Linked DNA regions of Homo sapiens. The protein of the gene in region 3 purifies or fractionates together with the protein of the main gene of each other region. This does not show direct contact. Each region holds a gene or a part of one and is shown on either strand. Other genes may lie near its edges.

Region 1 (4,276 bases), on a different chromosome or scaffold from region 3:
CCAAAGTGCTGGGATTACAGGCGTGAGCCACTGTGCCTGGCCAGTTTGCATTTTTAAAAGCTCCATGGAAGACTCTGATAGGCCAGACTGCCCTTGCTCTGTGCAAGTCCAGCACCACTCTATCCCCCACTCCCATTAAAAAACAAAACCAAAATGAAATGTTCATGCATTGATTTCCTAAGTCACAAGAAGAAATATAACCAACAAGTAGACCACAACGCTCCTGGAGGGAAACTGGTTCAGGAGCAGGAGGTGGCTACTGACCTCCTCTTGCAGCAAGGGGAGCAGGTGGGTGATCAAGAAATTGAGAGCCTGAGGGGAGAAGGTCTTGTTGCAGTGAGTTCATGGAGGAGCCAGAATCTGAACGAGGTGATGCTTTTCAGACCCCTCCTATCCTGGATCCCTTTGGATGGACCCCTCTGCTTGGAAAGGGGAGAAAGGAGTTCCCCAGGGTGGTCAGAGTAACCTCTCCTGCCTTGGGGGTCCTCTGGGTGTGGGAGGCCTTGCAAGTGCCCAGAGCCAGATGGAGTGATGCTGTTTCAGCAAAGGCGCCAGGAATTTGGGGATGGGAAGGGGTAAGGGGGAGAGAAAGGAGACACAATCTCCGTGGGATTTGGGATGGGGGCAAACAATGCTAGTGGGAGGACATGGAGTGCAGGATTTTTTTTCCCCCCTCAGATTTCCCACTTTAGTTGAAGGCTAAGCCTTTGCCCAGGGGATGCAAACTAATTTCAGTATTAGTTTAAGCCAGAAATAATTGGGAAGGTAAAACTTGCAAAAGAGAAACCACGCCACATATTTCAAAGACAAATTGAAACAATTTCTGGATTATCCCCAGACCTTTCTTCTGTCTACCAGTGATCGGGATTTCTTAGTTGCTGAGACTCTTGCCCTTGCAGACCTTTGTCCTGGCTGAAACCTCATTAATCCTTGCATCAGCCCTGGGGGAGGCAGGTGAGGGTGAGGGATGGCTCTTCCGCTGTTTTAGGAGAGACCACTGAGGTTGAAAGGCCGGTGACGTAGACATAATGTCCTTTGGGCAGGAGCATGGCTTGAACTTCCAGAGACTCCTGGACACCAGCACCTACAAGGAGGCCTTTCGGAAGGACATGATCCGCTGGGGAGAGGAGAAACGCCAGGCTGACCCAGGCTTCTTTTGCAGGAAGATTGTGGAGGGCATCTCCCAGCCCATCTGGGTAAGAGGGCTCCATGGCAGCATGAAGAACACCTGTTTCCCTAGCTCTTCGCTGTGTCCATCTCTCTCTGTCTCCACTGCCACCATCCTGGCCCAAGCCCCCACCATTTCTGGCCTGGACAGTCGCAGTAGCCTCCACACTGGTCTCTAGCTGTGGCTCTTGCCCTCTGTGGTCTATTCATTACACAGTAGCCAGACTGACCTTTTATTATTTATTTATTTATTTATTTATTTATTTATTTATTTATTTTTGAGATGGAGTCTCACACTTGTCGCCTGGGCTGGAGTGCAGTGGCGCAATCTTGGCTCACTGCAACCTCTGCCTCCTGGGTTTAAGTGATTCTTCTGCCTCAGCCTCCCAAGCAGCTGGGACTACAGGTGTCCACCACCACGCCTGGCTAATTTTTGTATTTTTAGTAGAGACGGGTTTTCACCATGTTGGCCAGGCTGGTCTCGAACTCCTGACCTCAGGTGATCCACCCACCTTGGCCTCCCAAAATAGTGGGATTACAGGTGTGAGCCACTGCATGCGGCCCAGACTGACCTTTTAAAAACGTGAACCAGGTGATGTCACTCTTCTGTTTAGAATACTTTGGTGGCTTCCCATTGTGCTCATGAACAAAATGAAAATCCTTCACATGAACTTCTGGGCCTTGTGTGATCCAGTTTCTGCTACTTTTTTAGCCTCCTTACTCCTTAAGCTGTAGCAACACTGGCCTTCTTGGTCCTCAAGTCAGTCGAACTCCTTCTGGAATCAGGGCCTTTGCACATGCCCTTCCACCTGTCTGGACTGCCCTTTCTTTCTCTTTCCCTGGTTAGCTTCAGCTCAGTTGACATGACACCTCCACAGGGAAGCCTTCCCTAATATTCAGGTCTTAACTGGTGCTCCCTGGCAGGTGCTCCTATAGCACCCTACCCCTTTTTTTCCTCATTCATTCTGGCAGTGAATATTGAGTGTCTACTTCTGCCAGGTGTGGTTGCATGTTGTGGGGATATATTGGTGCAAAAGCGCAATGAAATCTCTTCCTTCAGGGAGCTTACATTACAGCTGAGGGTGGCGGGGAGATAGGCACAGAATAAATACAGAATATATCAGGCAGTGGTAAATACTAAGGAGTAAAATAAAGTAGGCCTAGGATATGAGGAGAGATAGGGAAGCGTTGCTGTTTTATTAAGGGTGCCTGGGAAGGCTACACTGATATGATGATGTTTGAGCAAGACCTGAAGGAAATAAGGGATAACTGAATGGATATTTGGGGAAGTAGCTTTCCAGAGAGAGGGAGGAGGAAGTGCAGAGGCTTGAGTGGTGAGTGTGCCTGGTGTGTCTGAGGACAAGCCAGGTGGCCAGAGTGGTGGAAGGTCAGGTCAGACTTCCCAGGGCGGACCTTTGGGAGAGCTGGGATTTTATTCTGAGTGAGATGGGGAGTCACTACAGCGTTCTAAGCAGAGGAGAGACATGATCTGATTTCAGATTGAGAAGCCTGGCCATAGCTGCTGTGGGGAAGATGGGAGCAGAAGCACAGGGGCCGGGTGGAGGACTTTCCTGTGTTTTTTTTTTTTTTTTTTTTTTTTTTTTGAGACAGAGTCTCACTCTTGTCACCAAGGCTGGAGTGCGGTGGCGCGATCTCAGCTCACTCTACCCTCTGCCTTGTGGGTTTAAGCGATTCTTGTGCATCAGCCTCCCGAGTAGCTGGGATTACAGGCATGTGCCATCATGCCCAACTAATTTTTTTTGTATTTTTAGTCGAGACGGTGTTTTACCATTTGGCAAAATTTGAACTCCTGACCTCAAGTGAACCACCCACCTCGGCCTCCCAAAATGCTGGGATTACAGGCATGAGCCACCATGCCTGGCCAGGACCTTTCTGTAACAGACAAAATGACTATGGTTGGGGCGCAGAGGGGAGCAAACGTAGAGTGGAGAGAAGGGGTCAATTTTGCGTGTATTTTGAAGAGAAAACCAACAGGATTTGCCCTTGGGTTGGCTGTGGGGTGTGAGAGACTATACCAAGGATTTTGTTCTGAGCAGGTGGACAAATATAGAATTATCATTTTCTAAGACAGGGAAGGTGGGGAGGAACAGGATTGGAGAGGAAATCAGGAGTTGAGTTTCAGCCGTGTTGAGGTTGAGACACTTGTTGACATACACTGTAATCACATGGTTATTTGATTACTGAATACTTGTTCAGTGTCTCCCACTAGACTGTAAGCTCTGAGAGGGCAGGCACAGGGTCTGTTTTGCTTACCAGTCTAGCCTTAGCACCTAGCACAGTGACCAGCGTACAGTAGGTACTTACTATAATACTTGTTTAATTGGATTAATGAACTTGTCAGCAGCACTGCCTGACATGTAGTCAGCACTCAGTGGTGTATGTTCAATGAATGAATGAATCCGTGAATAGTGAGTCTAGCTGCTGACATGCTCACGATGATGGGGGGGTAGAGCCACACCCCACACTGCCCTGGGTTCTGTAGTCCTCCCACCTCCCCTCACTTCTATCATCCTGTCCTGTTGGTCACCTGTCTGTCCCTCTCCTGCAGCTGGTGAGTGACACACGGAGAGTGTCTGACATCCAGTGGTTTCGGGAGGCCTATGGGGCCGTGACGCAGACGGTCCGCGTTGTAGCGTTGGAGCAGAGCCGACAGCAGCGGGGCTGGGTGTTCACGCCAGGTGAGCCACTCTATGTGTAGGGCACAGGAGGACACAGGCTACCCACCCTGTGGTTTGTCTACCGGGCAGGCCTGGGGGAAGTGAATAAGGGATGATAAAGGAGAATCTGAGGCCTCCTGATTAGGGAGTAGCATGGTGGACAGAATCCTGAGGGTCAAGGTTCCCTTGGCTTAACCTAGGCTATCTTCTCATGGCCAGTGGGCTGCTTTGGTGGTCTGGCTGGGACCCACCCCCATGATTCTTCACCTTTGCTTTCCAGCCCAGTAGGGGCTGACAGTGGTCAGGGGCAAACCTGACAAAGCTCACTTCTGTTTAACACAGTAGTGGAGTTAGAAGTTAGTAGTGGAGAGGAAGTTCTGCTGGGAGCTTCAGTGGTGCAAGCCCAGGACCCGCTCTGTGGGCTTCAGAAG
Region 2 (4,276 bases), on a different chromosome or scaffold from region 3:
ATCACAACTCACTGCAGCCTCCACCTCCCAGGCTTAGGTGATACTCATACTTCAGCCTCCCAAGTAGCTGGGACCACAGGCATGCACCACCACACCCAGCTAATTTAAAAAAATTATTTGTAGAGATGGGGTCTCCCTATGTTGCCAAGGCTGGTCTCGAACTCCTGGGCGCAAGCAATCCTCCTGCCTCAGCCTCCCAAAGTGCTGGGATTACAGGCATGAACCCATTACACCCAGCCTATGCTAATTATTATTTTACTGAACTCTCACAATCCTATGAGGTAGGTATGATTACACACATTTTATAGATAAGAAAAGTTTTAACTTTTAATTTTAGAATCATTTCAAACTTAAGAATTATAATACTAGTGTAAATAATTCTCATATATGCTTCACTCAGAGTTAGTAGATTTTACCCTTAACTGGGATTGGTCTAATGTTTCCTCACAATTAGATTCAGGTTATACATTTTTGGGAGGAATACCACAGAAGGGCTATTTTCAGTGTAACACATCAGAAGGCATCTGATGCCTGCCAATTTCTTTTCTGATCATTATTTGAAAGGCAAGTATCATACATGGAGAAGGTAAGGGGCTACCTGTTCTCTGGCTGACAGAATCCCTGTTACTATCTCCACAGGATTTCTAAATTTTCGCTTTTCTGATAGTCTCTGCTCTCTCCAAGCAGAGCTCCTTGACCTTTTTAAAAGACAGATGCTTAGAGTTAGTGGCAGCATCTCTGAGGATCTGGGCTCCTCTAAAATAAAGTGTGGCATCAACCAGGCCATTCTTTGGAGACAGCTCCGAGATTGCAAGTGAGATGGTAGCGTAGAGGCTTACCAGGCTTGCAGGGCACAGATGGGGTCAATTTCAGTTACATACACAATGGAGCCCATGGCTTTCAGGGCAGCACAGCACCCTTTCCCCACCTGAAGAGGGGAGAGAGCACACATATTAAGGAAAGTCACTGAGAAAACCATTTCTCAAAGCTTCTGGTAAAGTGCACCCCCTCTTTCCACCCCCGAGAGGAATTTCACTGAATAGATTCATACTTGGGGAAAACGAGAAGAACAAATAATTGAATGCAGCTCATAAACAAACCCCTGGCTCCTGCTTATCGCATTCATGTGCACAAGAACACCCACACTCACGATTCATAATTAAAACACAAGCTAAAAAGAACATCACAAACGGTGGTACTGGAGCAAGTCAGAAAATCAACTTAAGGGAAAATGGCGGCAACGCAAAGGGAAAAAGAAAGTCTACTTCAACCAGAAGGCCTCTGAAATTCTTTTTCTCATCTAAAGTGGTAAAGGGTGTACTCATATGTCCATACAAATAAAAAATTCCAGAATATTTCAACAAAATCCATTTAAAACACCTAATAAACAAAAGGTTAAACTTCACCTCTCCATAGCCACAGACTACCACTTGCTTTCCACCAAACATCATGTCTGTTGTCCTTTTAAGTCTAGGGGAAAAAAAAACATTAAATCAGAAAAATCTTCTCTTGTTTCTCCCTTGAGGTTAGATTGAATCTCTTTGTTTTCATGGGGTTTTTTGGTTGGTTTTTCATTTTGAAAGAAAGTCTGGTTTCTTTATTTTTTTAAAGGGGTTTTCTGGTAAAGACCAGAAAACCTGCTAGACAAATTCTAAAAGACCTGTAACACTGAAAGTCTGGTTTCTATCCTAGAGAAACTAATGACCAGACAGGAAGGTTAAATAAAATACATATTTTCTCACTCCCTGCCATCTAACCAATCCTATATGTAAGGGTTTTTTTCCTTTTTTTTTCCCCTTTCTTGCAAGTGGTGCAGAAAGGAAGAAGATGTAGATAACACAGTAACTTTTAAACATAAAAGCAACATACATTTATTAGATAATATTTTGAAAATATAATATTTAGAAATAGAAAAGATACAAAGGAGAAAATAAAAATAATGTAATTTTAATTTATGAGGTGACAAAGCTCTGGCTTTATGGAGACATTATCCAGAGGTGCTACATGAATCCTTTCCAGAAATAACCAAAGCCAAAAAACTTAGAATCTCAACTGGACATCACAACTTCATCTCAAAGATAATAAACATTACCCATCAAGAATTGATTCACGGCAACAGTAGAGGTTGTCAAATTTCTGTTTGGTGACTGAGTCATTGACATTCATGGCTGGAACACACAGCTTCCCAGCTTTGGACAGTTGGTACAGCCTGAGGATGAGGGAAGCCAAGAACAAAAAACACCAGGACATTACAATCTACCATTGCTTTCATAGGAGGCCCCAGAAATACGTTGATTGGGTAGGCATGAGACCATGAGACATGACTAGTTTCATCCTGTTAGGTGGCCACTGAGAAATAAAGAATATCTTTCTAGAGCCTGCATATATAGCTTCACAATAAAGATTTTATTCAAAAGTCATGTGGGGGAAATCCTTGACCCACCTCTAAATTTTAAGGCCTTCACTGGAGACTATAAAAAGTGGGAGAGTGGGAGCGGGTTGAAGGTTGAAAAATTACCTACTAGGTACAATGTTCACTAAATCTGCACTGGTCTCCCTGCCTGCCAGAACTACAAGTGCATGAGACTACGCCTGGCTGTTTGTGCTTTTATTGTTTGTTTGTTTGTTTTGAGATGGAGTCTCACTCTTGTTGTCCCCGCTGGAGAGCAATGGTGTGATCTCAGCTTACTGCAACCTCTGCCTCCAGGGTTCAAGCGATTTTTGTGCTTCAGACTCCTGAGTAGCTGGGATTATAGGCGCCCGCCACCACACTCAGCTAATTTTTGTATTTTTAGTAGAGACGGGGTTTCACCACGTTGGCCAGGCTGGTCTTGAACTCCTGACCTCAGTTTTGTACATTCAAAAAGATGATAATGTATTGAAGCAGTGATGGTGGCTGGTTCAGAATTTACTTCCCTACAACTTTTTTTTTTCATACTTTTAGTTCTTTATGGGTGAAATAAATCATAGAAATGATCACAGAAATTGAACTGAAATAATTCCAATTTTACTCAGAGAATTATTACTCATTTGAGAAGCAGAACCCTACATCCTTGCTCTCCATGTAAGAATGTAAGCTCTAAGATGGCAGAGTTTTTTTCTGTCTGTTTTGTCTACTGCTAGATTCCTAGCATCTAGAGCAGTTCCTCATTCATTGTAGAAGTTCAATAAATATTTGTTGAATGAATGAATGAATATATGTGTCCAAAAAGGACAAGTTAATTGTTTACAATCACTAGAAAACATGAGGACTTCACTTGTTCTCCCACCTGCCCCCTTCTCACTATTTTAGGTTCATTATTTGTGTTGTTAATTAAAAAAAAAAAACAAGAGAGATCTGCTCACCTCATAGCAAGCTGAGATCTGGTCACCTCATAGCAAGCTGAGATGTGGTTACCTCATAGCAGGCTCCAATTTTTTTTTTTTTTTTTTTTTTTTTTTTTTTGAGATGGAGTCTCGCTCTGTCACCCAGGCTGGAGTGCAGTGGCATGATCTCTGCTCACTGCAAGCTCCGCCTCCTGGGTTCATGCCATTCTCCTCCCTCAGCCTCCCGAGTAGCTGGGACCACAGGCGCCCACCACACCAGGCTAATTTTTTTGTATTTTTAGTAGAGACGGGGTTTCACCGTGTTAGCCAGGATGGTCTTGATCTCCTGACCTCGTGATCCGCCCACCTCAGCCTCCCAAAGTGCTGGGATTACAGGCGTGAGCCACCGCGCCTGGCCCAGGCTCCAATTTTTAACATGTGTTTTATAGGTATGTGTTTATAAGATTTTATGTCTAGACTGCATAAAACCAGGTATGCCCATGTCAAATCTTACCTGTGAACTCCAGTAACACTCTCCTCTACTATGCCCTTGATTTTCTTAAACATGTTGGGATACTTTTTATAAATCCAGTGGGTAAGATCCCCTCCATCATCCAAGATCTGCAATAGTAAGCATCAATAACATCATTCACTTTGCTGAAGTCTCAAGGCTTCAGTGCTTCTCTGGGTCTTGCATCCCAATCTAATTAGCAATTTACAGATATTTAAAATTTCCCATATGGTTATGCAAAGTAACTTAAAGCCAGAGTAAATACAATAATCTGCCAAATAGTCATTATATTGAAGTAAAAGACAATGAGAGGAGAAAGGCCAATTGTAATTCGCGCAGCCAAACGACCCTCCCCGTGACATATCTACTGTATCAAAATATACAGCAACTAACCGAGGATTTTCTTATGGATTGGTAACTTGTAGTTACTAGGCCACTAGATCTTGAATCTACTATAGG
Region 3 (4,678 bases):
ACTTAATTAATGTTAAGAAAATAAAAATAACTGTTCAAAAGTTCTGCTTCAACTGCCCAAGCAGTGAAATAATTTCCTAGGGGAAGGGAGGGACCATCTACAAGCAGCAGGAGAAAGAGCACTGAGAACCAGGATACAATTACTTTTTGAGAAGAAATTTGGATCAAACCCAAGTGTCATAGTCTTCCTTGGCTGTGTCATTGAATCAAATTGGCTACAAAAAAGTAATCTTTTCTTTAGAAAATTGTTCCTTCACTCCCTTAGAGGCTTACATATACAGCCTGGAAAGGGCTGCCAGTGTGAATGATGATAAAATGAACTTCCCTTGTAATCCCAGCACTTTGGGAGGCCGAGGTGGGCGGATCACCTGAGGTCAGTAGTTCGAGACCAGCCTGACCAACATGGAGAAACCCTGTCTCTACTAAAAATACAAAAATTAGCCGGGCGTGGTGGTGCATGCCTGTAATCCCAGCTACTCGGGAGGCTGAGGCAGGAGAATTGCTTGAACCCGGGAGGTGGAGGTTGCGGTGAGCCGAGATTGCGCCATTGCACTCCAGCCTGGGCAACGAGAGCAAAACTCCGTCTCAAAAAAAAAAAAAAAAAGAACTTCCCACAGGAAGTTGAGAGTGCTGAGGCACTTATAAAGGACTAGATTCCCCTCTCATTTGGGACAGTTGAATTCAGGTTTCTTGGCTGTATTGGATACGCTTGTTACTTGCCTATGTCCACAGTCCCTCATACATATATTCTGTTTCATCGACGAACCCTGGAAATGTCAGTTGTCAGTCCTACGCACCTTCTGGCTATGGCTGATTGGACCACTGATAGACACTCAACTCATTCACTGTCTGGTCAGTGACCAATCAGATTCTCACTTAAGAATTGAGCCACAGTGGAAGACGTCAGTGGAAGGTGTAGGGCAGGGGCTGGAGTGTCAGGTTTTGTCCTGTGGAATGTTGAGAATGCAGAGAAGCCAGTCTGCACATAGAAGCAGCAAAATAGGGAAGGCTTCCGGGACAGAGGAAGAGACCAGAGCCTTGTGGTAACAGAGTGATGTTGGGAGCAGCAGCCTTGGTGTGTGTGTGTTTCTTTTTTTTCGACGGAGTCTCCATCTGTTCCCCAGGCTTGAGTGCAGTGGTGAGATCTCGGCTCACTGCAGCCTCCACCTCCTGGGTTCAAGTGATTCTCCTGCCTCAGCCTCTTGAGTAGCTGGGATTACAGGTGCCCGCCACCACGCCTAGCTAATTTTTGTATTTTTAGTAGAGATGGGGTTTCCCCATGTTGGCCAGGCTGGTCTCAAACTCCTGACCTCAAGTGATCCACTTGCCTTGGGCCTCTCAAAGTGCTGGTGTTATAGGCGTGAGCCACCATGGCCGGCCAGTTTTTGGCTTTTCAGGGAGCCCTAGCTATTCTTAAGTTTCTTGGAGATATCCTTATAATAATCAATCTACCTCCAGCTCTACTTGTTTCTAAAGCTAGCTTGAATGGGTGTCTGTTCCTTGAACAAAATACCAACCCCTTCTCCCACAGCTACTCAGGGTACATTGAAATTCTAAAACTGAAACTAGATTGAGACACTTTAAACTGCAGAAAACGACCAAATCCCACATTAGTAGCTTTTTTCCTGCTAAGTTCTGAACCTTACAGGAAGAAGACATTCTGCCAAGAATCTAGTCGCTAGGAGAGAAGCTAGTCTCGTTTTTTTTTTTTTTTTTTTTTGAGATTGAGTTTCGCTCTGTTGCCCAGGCTGGAGTGCAGTGGCGCGATCTCGGCTCACTGCAAGCTCCGCCTCCCGGGTTCACGCCATTCTCCTGCCTCAGCCTCCCGAGTAGCCGGGACTACAGGCGCGCGCCACCACGCCCGGCTAATTCTTTTTTTAAAATACTTTTAGTAGAGACGAGGTTTCACCGTGTTAGCCAGGCTGGTCTCGATCTCCTGACCTCGTGATCCGCCCGCCTCGGCCTCCCAAAGTGCTGGGATTACAGGCGTGGCCACCACGCCCGGCCAAGCTAGCCTCTCTTTTAAGCCCCATCTTGACATTTTGCTGTCAGCTCAGGCTTAACGAGGCCTTGAGCTCTGCCACTAGGTTAACTGTGCTCCAGCTGTTAAAAACCACCCACCCACCCGCCTCTTGTGCTCATTTCATTTCTAGAAACCTGAAGCTACTCTCTAAATCCTCCTCTAACAATTGGGTTTCAGAGCCTGCAAGGCAAGTTTTCTCTGACTCTGGGATGTCCAGTAGTGTTCAGTGCTCTCTTTTTCTGGGAATTTTCAAGGGTTCAAGATCAAGGTATAAGCTTGCTTCAATCACTTACCCAGGAATGTGGGCAGGACCCCATAAAACCACATTCTTCCAAACAAACTAGACCTATGGTGATCCTATCGGGTCGCTAGTTAGCTAGCACAAGTGTCCTAAAATGTGGGAACAATAGTGATTGGTTTGGGAACCTGTCACATCTTACAAAGTTAGGGCCACACATCTGAGAAAGTGGGTTGATGCCATTTATGGTCTGTGACTTCAGCTGATCTAACACTGCTCATTAATTCTTTTATCTTTGTTCTTCTCTGTTCCTTATCTTCTAAACCTTTGCTATCTTCTCAAATTTCCCTCAAAATTTTCATTCTTCATTCATCTGAAGAATTTGCTTTGAAACTCTCTCTACCTTTCTAAGTTGATTAATCAGCTTCATATTCCGGAGAGAAAGCTGAGGTAATCTGCCATGAACTTCTTTGGTTCCTACTCCTCTCTCTTTAAAGTCTGTACACCTACTGATTCCACTTCTCCCCCTATTTAATCCATTGGAATCTAACCCTGCCTCCTTCCCTCTCCAAAAACCACTTTGGCAAAAGTCATCAATTGTCCTGGGCTTCTGAAAAGGTGGTTGCAGATGCCCAGAGCACTCTTTGCCTGGCTAACTCCTGTTCAAGTCTCTCTCTCTCTCTCTTTTTGTCAGGGAGGCCTTTCCTACCCAGAGGCTTGGTTAAAACCCTTTGCAACATGCTTTCTTAGCACCCTGTGAGTCCACTTTCATCATACTCATCAGCTGTGTGATTATTATTCAGTGGCTATATGCCTGCTCCACTGAAAGATCTACGTGACCGTCTTGTAGACTGCTGCCTCCTCATCCCTAGCACGGTGCCTCCAGTACAATTGAATTGATTGAGAGAAATCTCAGTTTCTATAATTGCAAAGTTACCAAGTTCCTACTTCTCAGGAGTAGTGTGTTGAATAATAAGCAAATATTTCCCCGTATGTAACATACTGACATGCTATCAAAGGCACTGGATGTCAAAGATGAGAGCTCTTCTGCAAGCTTAATAAGACCAAAGTAGGTCAAATATTTAAATGTAGATTAAAAACATTTTGAGAGGCAGAATAGCAAAGTGTTTAAAAGGATAGGCTCTAGAGCCAGGCTTCCTGAGCTCTGCCATTTCATAACTGGGTGAACACAGATAGATTCCTTAACCTCTTTGAGTCTCATTTTCCTCCTTTGTAAAATGAAGAAAAGAATACTACCCATCTCATCATCTCTTTGTGAGTGTTACCGGAAATAAAATGTGTAAAGTGCTGAGAACATTGCTGGACATACAGTTCACACTTAATAAGTGTTAGCTACGGTTATTAATCTTGAATGTTATGGAAACATTCTGTTAGCCTGAGCACCATTTTCTTAGGCCCATAAAATTTGTGCATTAAAGATAGGGCTACTGGGGACACACGTTACTAGAATAGGACCTCGCCAATGACAGGGACTGTTGACTCTTGGTCACTGCCGGTGTCTCCAGCACCTAGAATAGTCCCTGGCTTATAGTGGTGCTCAGTAAATACTTGATGAGTTAAATGGTCAGGCCGACCTTGAATGTTCCTCTCTGTATATTTTGTGGAGTTCAGTGAGTATTTAATTTCAGTCGCAGAAAATCTGCAATAATAAATTATATTAAAAATTGGCTGGGCGTGGTGGCTTACACTTATAATCCCAGCACTTTGGGAGGCTGAGCCAGGCAGATTACTTAAGCTCAGGAGTTCAAGACCAGCCTGGCCAACATGGTGAAACCTCGTCTCTACTAAAAACACAAAAATTAGCCGGGCATGGTGGCAGACACTTGTAATCCCAGCTACTCTGGAGGCTGAGGCAGGAGAATCATCTGAACCCAGGAGGCGGAGGTTGCAGTGAGCTGAGATAGTGCCACTGCACACTCCAGCCTGGGCGACAGAGGGAGACCCTGTCTCAAACAAACATACAAACAAACAAACAAAAAAATTAGAGTATAATAGAAAAAACAAGGCAAAATATTGCTTGGAATTTGAATATCAGTTTTAAGGTGGTTTATTATAGTCTAGACATGAAATTCACAGCATACCAACAACTACTTTAAAAACAAGTACTTTTTTAAAAAAAGGTAATGATGAAAGACCTTTTTTTTTTTTTATAATTACCTATACTCTGTGGTTATTTGGGCAGACAAAGCTGGCTTGCAGTGAACTATACTGATTTTAAGAGAAGTCAGCTTTCTACTTAAAGTTTAAGTGTGCAGTTCTTCCCTTACATGGTGCATGGAGTCTTAGAAACTAATTCTCATGTGCTTTCAGACTTGAGCCAGAAAGAATAAGTTCTATGATTGATTTACTCACAATAACTGCAAAACTCAATTTATTTTGTAGACTCAAAGAATGACT
Region 4 (4,276 bases), about 69 Mb from region 3:
TCATTTTTAAACAATAATTTGTACTATTTTGCAGGTTTAGAGATGAGTTCGAGAAAAGAGCTCCTCTTCACTAGGGCCCACCCACTCGCCTCCGCCTTCTGAGCCTGTCTCTTCCGAGGTGGAGCTGGCGCTGGAGCACATCTTTCCGCGGAAGCCATCTGACTTTGCTCCAGAATCTCTCTCTCCTGTACATCTTGCTTCATAAACAGAAGACACCTAAGATTAAAACAATTTTCAACACATCAAAAAGACTTTTTTTTCCCCAAAAGGGTGAGATACTCTATCTATATACAAAGAAGAAATAATAAATCATCAGTGTTTTCCTGTGGAGTTACAAACATGCAGAGTTTTACTGTTTCAGAGCAAAACCGCCTCTCTTCTCTGATCCATGAAGGATCCAAAATCCTAATTCCACATGTTCAGTCACTTGGACAAAATGTTAGCCATGTTAGGGTAGGATAAAGAATTATTTCATTTTCAAAGTCTTTGAGTACCTGCTATGCACCAGGAACTTTACTGGGCACAGGGACTCCAGCAGTGGAAGGCGCATGCCAGGCTCGCTGGGGAGATGAACGAGCAAACCAACATGTGCCAGTTGCAGTGACACAGTACCGATGGTGAGGGGGGCACTGCAGACGGGTGTGTTGGGAAGGGAGTTTGCAGTGACACAGTACAGATGGTGAGGCGACACTACAGACCTGTGTGTTGGGAAGGGAGTTTGCAGTGACACAGTACAGATGGTGAGGGGACACTGCAGACCTCTGTGTTGGGAAGGGAGTTTGCAGTGACACAGTACAGATGGTGAGGGGACACTGCAGACCTCTGTGTTGGGAAGGGAGTTTGCAGTGACACAGTACAGATGGTGAGGCGACACTACAGACCTGTGTGTTGGGAAGGGAGTTTGCAGTGACACAGTACAGATGGTGAGGGGACACTGCAGACCTCTGTGTTGGGAAGGGAGTTTGCAGTGACACAGTACAGATGGTGAGGCGACACTACAGACCTGTGTGTTGGGAAGGGAGTTTGCAGTGACACAGTACAGATGGTGAGGGGGCACTGCAGACGGGTGTGTTGGGAAGGGAGTTTGCAGTGACACAGTACAGATGGTGAGGGGACACTGCAGACCTGTGTGTTGGGAAGGGAGTTTGCAGTGACACAGTACAGATGGTGAGGGGGGGCACTGCAGATGGGTGTGTTGGGAAGGGAGTTCTTTGGAGAAGAGGCCCGCTCAGCTGAGAAGCCAGCCATGCAGAGGTGCCAACACTCTGTGGTGTCGGACTGTCTCCCCTACACCAGATGGTCAGCATCTCTGGACCCCAGGACATGAGATGCAGTGGTGGCCCCTCCTCAGTCACAGTCATTACAAAGCTCCCCTCACCCTGCCATAGTAACTAGCAGCACTCCCACCTCATTTCCAAATGGCAGCATTGCCCCTGGTTGAGAACCCCTGAGGCAGAAGCACAGAAAAGCCACACAGAGTAAGGGGAGAGCAGAGACAGATGAGGTCAAAGGCAGACGGGGGCAAAACATACAGGGCTGTAGAGGCGTGGCGGGGAGTTTGGATCTGTCTCAAATGCAACAGCAAAGTGACATCATGGTTAGCAGTATGGGTCCTAGAGGCAGACTGCTGAGGTTCAGAGTTCAGGTCCACACTGAAGCTGTGGCTCTCTGGCCTCGGATACACGGCGCCTGATGTTTTTGTGCTTCACTTTCCTATTTTGCAGAACAGGCATGACAACAGTACCTACCTCACAGGGTCGTTGTGAGGACTGAACAAGATACTGCTCGTGAGGTCATTCTGTCTGCTGTGTGGAGAGAAGGCTGGAAAGGATGACGAAAGCAGGAAGGACAATGAAAAGACCATGGCAGCTGTTCAGGAGCAGGGACAGTGGCTTGAACAAAGTGGTAATGATGGAGAGGAGGAGAAGTGGGAGATGCGAAGTGGCTGACAGCGGGGAACGGTCAGGACTGGCAGGCAGACTGTGTGTGGAAGATGAGAGAGAGGACTGGGGAATATGTCTCAGTTTGGGGTTTGAGGCTGGAGGGATGATGTGAACTAGTCACTGAGGAGAGAGCTGGTGGGGGCCTCAAACATCTGCCTTCATGTGTGGAGCCGGACAGGTCAGTGGGCAGCAGGACGTGGACGATGATGCTACAGGTGCTTGGGCAGACAGTTCTCACAGGACTTGAATGGACACTGACAGATGGTTAATACTGAGTGTCAACTTGATCACATGCCGTGTGATTCAAGTTAACGGGAAACTACAACAGCCCAGTCCAGACAGGATACAAATGGCTCAGACTCTTTAGGAATGAAGGTTTAGGTCACTCCACCGGGAAAAAACCACAACCTGCTGAGGTGCTTGCTGAAGGCAAAGGGAATACAGAATGGGTAGTAGAAGAAGGTAGTCATCAATACCAGCTACGACCATGTGACCAGGTGCAGAAACCAGGACTGTAATTGTCTTGAGGAGTATTTCCTCCTTCGTTAAAAACACGTTTGTGCATGTATACACTTGTACTAAGAAAATCTCATTTTATTTTTTGTCCTTTATCATGTGACACAAGATTTATGTATGTATATATTTATGTATGTATGTATGTATGTATGTATGTATGTATGAATGAATGATGGAGTTTTGCTCTGTCACCCAGGCTGGAGTGCAGTGGTGCGATCTCAGCTCACTGCAATCTCTACCTCCTGGGTTCAAGCAATTCTCCAGCTTCAGCCTCCCAAGTAGCTGGGATTACAGGGGTGCACCATCACGCCCGGCTAATTTTTGTATTTTTAGTAGAGATGGGGTTTCGCCATGTTGGCCAGGCTGGTCTTGAACTCCTGACCTCAGGTGATCTGCCCACCTTGGCCTTCCAAAATGATGGGATTACAAGCGTGAGCCACAGCGCCCGGCTGACATAAGATTTATTGACTTCATATCAGCATTTAAGTATTGTTAACTCTATGTAATAGTACTTGGGTTTGGGATTGGTGCTTTTCCGGTTGTATGAAGCATAGCTGTATTATGTTAGGTATAATTATGACCTTATTGTCTTTATTTGAAGATTACATATAATTTCAGGAGATGTGTATGGGTTCAAATTGACAAGGGGTGGACTTGTTATGGTTAATACTGAGTGTCAACTTGATTGGATTAAAGGATGCAAAGTACTGATCCTGGGTGTGTCTGTGGGGGTGTTGCCAAAGGAGATTAACATTTGATCCAGTGGGCTGGGAAAGGCAGACCCACCCTTCATCTGGGTGGGCACCATCTAGTCAGCTGCCAGCGTGGCTAGAATATAAAGCAGGCAGAAAAATGTGAAAAGACTAGACTGGCCTAGCCTCCCAGCCTACATCTTCTCCCATGCTGGATGCTTCCTGCCCTCGAACATCGGACTCCAAGTTCTTCAGTTTTGGGACTGGGACTGGGACTGGCTCTCCTTCCTCCTCAGCTTGCAGATGGCCTATTGTGGGACCTTGTGATCGTGTGAGTTAATACTTAATAAACTCCCCTTTGTGTATATATATACCTATTCCATTAGTTCTGTCCCTCTGGAGAACCCTAATACACTGACAATTCACACCAAATAAAAAGAATTTTCCTTAGGTTCATTTGCCTGCCTGCCTCTTAACCGGGGAAGGTCTAAGACGAGACTAAACCAGGCGGAGGCCCCGCTCCCGCCTTCGTGGTGCCCACAGGCTTGTGGAAGAGGCAGACATGCAGAAACGGAACGCAAGTACATGCTCTGGCTACAGCAAGAAGAGTCGTGCACAGAGTGCAGGAGGACACGGAAAGGGCGGGATCGTTCTGCAGAAGCCGGGACAGCGGCAACAAGCACACTGGCAAGGCTGCCTCAGGGTGCACTTTCAAAGAGGACAAGGCTAGGTCTCCCACTTATTAGGTAAACAAAAAAAAAAAAGATGAAAAGTGTGCCCACCCAAGGAGCAACAGGGTCAGCTCTGCATTTGTAATGCAATGCCCTCGGGCAGTAGTGTAGAGCCAAGACTGGGGAGAGAGCTGGGGATTCTTCAGGAAGCACTGGCAGTCAACAGTCAAGGGGGTTTGGAAGCGGGGGAGAATGCAGACTCAGAACAAAGGCCAGAGAACAGGAAGTCTGCACCCACAGGCCTGGCTGGTTCCTGGGAGAGGTGGGGTCCACTCACATGACTCCCAGGTTTTTGACTACAGTGACAACTGGAGGTGGTGGCTGTTTGTAAGTTAATGACGAGGAGGAGGACAGTCCACTTACCCTATTAAAATCTAACAGGCGCTCTTCATTA

What was found.
Region 1: the proteins of ODAPH (region 3) and PMVK purify together in Homo sapiens (affinity purification with mass spectrometry; 2 studies listed by BioGRID and IntAct, with this or other methods). This does not show direct contact.
Region 2: the proteins of ODAPH (region 3) and AHCYL2 purify together in Homo sapiens (affinity purification with mass spectrometry; 2 studies listed by BioGRID and IntAct, with this or other methods). This does not show direct contact.
Region 4: the proteins of ODAPH (region 3) and KIAA0232 purify together in Homo sapiens (affinity purification with mass spectrometry; 2 studies listed by BioGRID and IntAct, with this or other methods). This does not show direct contact.

Annotation. Positions count from the first base shown.
Region 1 is NC_000001.11:154,925,944-154,930,219, reverse strand, and holds part of PMVK (phosphomevalonate kinase), read left to right. Parts: intron 1-1,043; coding exon 1,044-1,196; intron 1,197-3,736; coding exon 3,737-3,866; intron 3,867-4,276. UniProt on the Homo sapiens protein: Catalyzes the reversible ATP-dependent phosphorylation of mevalonate 5-phosphate to produce mevalonate diphosphate and ADP, a key step in the mevalonic acid mediated biosynthesis of isopentenyl diphosphate and other polyisoprenoid metabolites.
Region 2 is NC_000007.14:129,403,030-129,407,305, reverse strand, and holds part of AHCYL2 (adenosylhomocysteinase 3), read right to left. Parts: intron 3,928-4,276; coding exon 3,821-3,927; intron 2,210-3,820; coding exon 2,093-2,209; intron 1,471-2,092; coding exon 1,407-1,470; intron 929-1,406; coding exon 840-928; intron 1-839. UniProt on the Homo sapiens protein: May regulate the electrogenic sodium/bicarbonate cotransporter SLC4A4 activity and Mg(2+)-sensitivity. On the contrary of its homolog AHCYL1, does not regulate ITPR1 sensitivity to inositol 1,4,5-trisphosphate.
Region 3 is NC_000004.12:75,558,265-75,562,942, reverse strand, and holds part of ODAPH (odontogenesis associated phosphoprotein isoform 2 precursor), read right to left. Parts: intron 1-4,678. UniProt on the Homo sapiens protein: May promote nucleation of hydroxyapatite.
Region 4 is NC_000004.12:6,876,727-6,881,002, reverse strand, and holds part of KIAA0232 (uncharacterized protein KIAA0232), read right to left. Parts: coding exon 4,246-4,276; intron 217-4,245; coding exon 37-216; 3' UTR 1-36.